Regions from separate parts of the Homo sapiens genome. Here region 1 is linked to region 2. The links come from fine-mapping of genetic effects on gene expression. Tissue or cell type: esophagus mucosa. Region 2 holds a variant in brackets; the other region holds the start of a gene. All regions are shown on one strand. Distances are between the middles of the regions.

Evidence for each region. PIP is the estimated chance that this variant, and not a neighbour inherited with it, causes the effect.
Region 1: LRRC38 starts here. The variant in region 2 is fine-mapped to the expression of LRRC38 in esophagus mucosa (GTEx, PIP 0.94).

Annotation. Positions count from the first base shown.
Region 1 is chr1:13,512,747-13,515,401 of GRCh38, forward strand. It overlaps LRRC38 (leucine rich repeat containing 38), which reads right to left and starts at 1,257. Exons shown (of 2, transcript NM_001010847.2): 1 at 217-1,257. The coding sequence starts at 847. It overlaps LOC107984918 (a long non-coding RNA gene), which reads left to right and starts at 474. Exons shown (of 3, transcript XR_001737896.2): 1 at 474-595; 2 at 1,545-1,798.
Region 2 is chr1:13,618,249-13,621,089 of GRCh38, forward strand. No RefSeq gene overlaps it. Among named protein-coding and RNA genes, the nearest start is that of PDPN, 36 kb to the left of the region's middle. The variant T/C (reference allele first, on the strand shown) is at 1,176.

The DNA of each region.
Region 1 (2,655 bases), 110 kb before region 2:
GGGGAAGAAGTACAGCCTCAGGGTTCAGAAACTCCAAAGAATTCCAGATGCGTCCCTCTCCACCCACTTCCCCAGCAGAGACCCAGGAAAAGTTCAGGATCCCCCAAGCCTCCTCTTCCAAACTCAACCCACGGCTCCTCCCACCCAGACTGGGGTCTGGGGTGGCCTCTCCCTGCCCCCCTCCCTCCCTCCCCCAGCCTAGCCGGCTCGGCTCACCTTTGGGCAGTTTGGATGCGTTCTCCTGGATCCAGGAGAAGAGGTGGGCGAAGTCACAGTCGCACAGCCAGGGGTTCCCGTCCAGACGCAGGGAGCGCAGCGCGGGCAGCGCGGCCAGGGCGGCCACGCTGAGGCTGCGCAGGTTGTTGTCGTTGAGCTCCAGCACCTGCAGCGACTCCAGGGTCTCGAAGGCGTCCTCGTGCACGCCCACCAGGTTGTTGTTAGCCAGGCTAAGCTTCACCAGCCTCCCGGCCGAGCGGAAGGCGCCGGCGCCCAGCTGGGTCAAGTTGTTGTAGCTGAGGTCGAGGAACACGAGCTTGGCCGAGCCGCTGAACGTGCCCTCCTCCAGCGAGCGCAGCGAGTTGTTCCTGAAGTCCAGGTAGACCAGGTCGCCGTAGAAGATGAAGAAGTCCTCGGGGATCCGCTGGATGCGGTTGCCGGCCACCAGCAGCTTGCGCACGTCCAGGGGGAAAGGGTCTGGCACGCTGGGCAGCCCGCGGTCGCGGCAGTCCACGGTGTGCGGGTCGGTGCAGGCGCAGCCCGCGGGGCACGCGTGCCCGGGCGCGAGCAGCAGCAGAAGGCTGCAGAGCCCGAGCGCCGCGGCGGCGCAGGCTGGGGCTCGGGGGCGCATGGCCGGGGGGCCCGCGCCGGCCGCGGCGAGAAGGAAGCGGCTCTCGGAGCGAGCCCTGGCGCGGGACGGCGCGGTGAGGCACTGGCTGCCGGGCGCGGGGAGCCAGAGGGCGGCCCGGGCGGGGAGGGCGTGCGCCCGGGCGTGCGGGGGCGATGGAGCGCGGCGCGGACGGACTGGGGAGCCGGGACAGCAGGGATGGAGAGGGGAGGGGCGGGGAGGGAGGGGCGAGGGACTCACCAAAGGGTTTACCCGGACAGGAAATTAACCCGCTAGAAAAATCTCTTGGGAGAGGCGGGAGCGGCAGGGGTGGCCGAGTGGCCGTCGCCAAAACGCGGCCCCACCCTGGCAGCTGATTTCCGAGATCTGGCAGTAAGACGCCGCGCGCACCGGGCGGGCTGCACTCGACGTCTAAGTTCAGCTACCAAGCCCAGGAGCGGTTTCCCTAAGGCGTGTCCCGGGCGTGCGCCCTGCCCCCTCGCGCCCGCCTGGTGCCAAAGCACGCTCCCTGCACGCCACCCTATGTCGCCAAAGGGAGTGGGACCTGGGTCACTCTGACTCTGCTCCGGGGGCAATCCCTGCAGGTTCTCGGGTGCCGCGCCAGGGTCTGCTGGTCTGAATTTGGGCGGGGTTCCAAGGGGAGAGAGTGAGTGACTGGTCTTCCCTCTTCCCTCCCCCACCTGCACTTGAACCATCTTAGGCTGGAGGGTGAGCGAGGCAAGTGGCTGCCAGGGCCCCCGCTGTGGCCTGCAGGGCCAGTCAGCACTTTCCATGCCGGCCCCGAACTTCTGGATGGAACTGGCATCCATGCAAGGATCAGCTGCTGGTCTGAGAGGTCCAGCTGCTGAGGCTCTGAGGCCTGGAGTCACCAGGCCTGGCTTCCAAGCTGTGTGGCCTCAGACCAGTACCTCTGCCTCTGTGGACCTGGTAGCTCCATTTGTGAAATGGAAAAAGGTAATATATATCTCATCAGCTTTGGGGGAGGACCAAGAAGTCAAGAACAAAGTTCAAAAATTATCTTTTCCTCTCTCCCCCTCAAAACCCCACCTTGGATAGCCTAGGGAGGCAGTCAGGAACGTGCCAAGGCTGAGATGAAAGGACAGTGAGGAAATGCTGATGTCAGCCTCTGACACTGGCAGGAAAATTCCCTCTTCACCACCCCGATGCCAAACTCCTTTCTTTCTGTCCCACCTCATTCTAGAAACTTCTATATGGGGAGGGGTCCCCACAGAGCTACCAAGAGATTGTCCCGCTGTTGGCTATTTTGGTCCAAATGCCCTAGAATTGACAGACTCCCACTAGACCAAAATAACCCAGGGAACAGCTGTTGGGCAGCAGGCTCCCAGAGACCCTTCCCTGGCCCCTGGCCATGCTGGGGATTGGTGGAGCCTCGGATTCTGAAGCCATAAAGCTAAGCCCTCGGCCTTCTTCCAAAGGTACAGGCCGACTTGATGCCTCTGAGCCATGGGATGAAAAAACTGATCCCCTGGGATGGAGCCAAGGGCTCAACAGATGAGCATATTTGCAGGAGCCCTGGGGAAGAGGCGGGGGAGACCCAGGGGGAAGCTTTGAGGCACCTGGAGTCCTGCAGCTTTTCCCCTACTTACATTCCAGGCCACTAAGCCAGACCTCCCTCAGTTCTCCGTCTCTGTCTCCACTCTCCCAGGGTGCCCAATTTGCCATTGCCATCCCCAACTTCAAGGGCTCAGCTTCCCCACCCCAGTCTCATGCTCTTGAAGAGGCAGGTGTCGGGAGGAGTGGTCTGAATGCTCCCAGAGTGGATGAAAATGCTTCTGCCTACATAAATGATG
Region 2 (2,841 bases):
TTGTTTTGAGATGGAGTCTCGCTCTGTCGCCCAGGCTGGAGTGCAGTGGCGCGATCTCGGCTCACTGCAGCCTCCACTTCCTGGGCCCAAGCAATTCTGTCTCAGCCTCCCAAGTAGCTGGGACTATAGGCGTGCACCACCACACCCACCTAATTTTTGTATTTTTAGTAGAGACGGGGTTTCACCACATTGGCCAGGATGGTCTTGATCTCCTGACCTCGTGATCTCTCCCTGCCTCGGCCTCCGAAAGTGCTGGGATTACAGGTGTGAGCCACTGTGCCCAGCCACCTGATTAATTTCTCAGCACTGGAGGGTAAAACCAGGTGAGGGGGCAATTTCATCTTGCCCCTGCTAGTCCTCCCTAGAAACCTCACCTCAGGAGAGGTGAATCCCTGTTGCTGGGGGACGCCCCACGGTTCCTTGCTCACCCCGACTCTGTCTGGAGATTGCCCTGGCCAGCTCCTGGGTGGGTGCTGCAGATCTCCTCCTCCCGACCCCACCGCACCACTCCATGTGGATTTATCCTCCTGATGCGGGTCCCTTCCCTGCCAGCGTAAGGATCAGGTGCTAGGAGCGGGAGAGCAGTTAGCCCCATGACTTCCTCGAAATAAATATTCAATATTGTTAAATTAGGACTGTTGAATTTGTCCGTTGTCAGTAATCCTGGGTGCCCATTTGAGTTCCAAACAAGGAACCATATTGTATGCCTGTAGTTCCAGCTGTTTGGGAGGCTGAGGTGGGAGGATCGTTTAAGCCAGGAGTTCAAGGCCAGCCTGGGCAACAAAGTGAGAGCCCCATCTCTTAAAAAATGGACCAGGGTTCTAGTCCTGTTCTGCTCCTCCACACCTGTAACCCTTCAGGGAAGTCATTTAACTTCTTTGGGCTGCAGTTTCTTCTAAGAACTTTCATGAGATGTCAGAAAGCATCCCTTTTCTAGCAGGAAACTAACCACGTCTACCTAGTCCAACAGATTGAAAGAGAACGGACCCTCAACTATGTTACATGTAAATTTACATTCCATTACATGCCACCCCCAGGAGATGACTGGAAACTGGGGGAGCTGCCAGGGTTCTGAAAGTTTAGGGAAACAGCTCTATCAGAGACATCTGGGAGCAGGGGGTGCTGAGGTTAGCTCTTTGCATGATATAAAGGCCTTGTTTTTAACCCCTACTTTT[T/C]CCCCTCAACCTGGGAAAACCAGTTGAAAAACCAGGGCTTAGTTCTGCTTCATGGGCCACCTTCAAGGCTTGGCTTTCATGAATAGGAAAGAGCAAGGAACTGTTAATCCCTTTGCTGTCTCTATTTTTATTTTAATTCAGATTTATTTAGTATTCAGGGCATGGGGCAGTTTGTGACATGCTTCGATTGGGGAATGGTGCACGTTTTGATATTAAAACTTTTGCCAATTAAAAGTCCATTGGAAGTGGAAAAAGAATCCTCCCCAAAATATAGCTGCATGTTAACACATGCACTAAAAATAGAGTCATCCCCTTGTGTGCGCTGGAGGACTTGTTCCCTGAAACATTGCCTTTTTCTTTGCTCTTCCTGAAGCTTAAAATCGGGTTAGAACATATAATAGATCCTGGATTTTTCAACTCAGTAAATATAAATGATGTAAGTGTGGTTATTGGTCAACAATGCAGAATGAGTCTAAAATCACACTCACTGGTGTGAATGGGAGTTTTTTTGGCTCAGGGGCCCAGCATGCAGGTACGTACCTGGTACAGGCAAAGCCAGCCTGAAAGCACTAAACACTATTCCTCAGCACTGTTTCTTACTCTGAGATTATTTTATCAGATGCTGACTCAAAGCACAGCGTGTTCTATTTCTACATCCAAGGGCTCCGGGCCATAGTACAGACAGTCCTATGCGTGGTTCTGAGACCTTGCTCCTCCTCCCATTTTTTCTTTCCTACCTCCTTCTCTACTGCTGCCTCTGCCTTTCCACTGATGCAAATTTTTGAGAAAACAATCACGTGCTGGTCACATACCAGGGCGATCAGCAAATGTTTCTGAAGTGACGGCTTCCCTCTGGATGCTGCTGAAGTAGTCAAAGAGGTCGTCTGAAATATTTGTTTGAATAAATGAGCTTACGGTCCTCCGCATGTAACCTCAGGAAGGTGTGCAGGTGTCCTGACCGAAGCAGGAGGTGGACCCCTTCCTGTTGCTCCTGTTCCCACCCTTCCACAGAGCATCTGTAGGTGAGGCTGGATCTGTGGATGGCCCAGGGCTCACTGGAAAGGGAGTAGGATTCTTGTCCAGCAAGATCCAGAAACAAAAGACACTCCCTTGGGTATAACTGCTGAAGAACTCTCATGGGACAGGAGTAATCTGTTCCTTCATTTATTTATTCATTCAAATATTTATGTTCAGGCCCGTCCCAGGTGCTGGGAATCCATAGTGCATGAAACCAACAAAAATTCCTGCTCACATAGAGCTTACATTCTAATGCTGGAGACTGCAAAAAAAAAATAAGTAAATCATAAGAGTGTGAAAATGAGAGACAATGGAGAAAAACACAGCAAGGAGAGGAAGTTCAAGTTTGGAGGAGCTGCAGCATGGAGTCTGGGGTGGGAGAAGGCCTCTCTGAGAGTCAAGCCATGTTCCTGAAGTGGCACGGCGAGGAGTGATCCTGATGGGTACCTGAGGGAAAAGTATTCTGGGCAAAGGGCATAGCAAAGGTCTGAGGCAGGAGCACCCTTGGCATGTTTTAGGGAATGCAGGGAAGCTCAGAAGGCTGGAGCAGTCAGCGCAGGGGACCATGGTAGGAGATGACGTCAGAGAGGTGGAGTGCCCTTGGAAATGGGGAGCCATGGGAAGCTTTTGAGCAGAGGAGTGACATGAT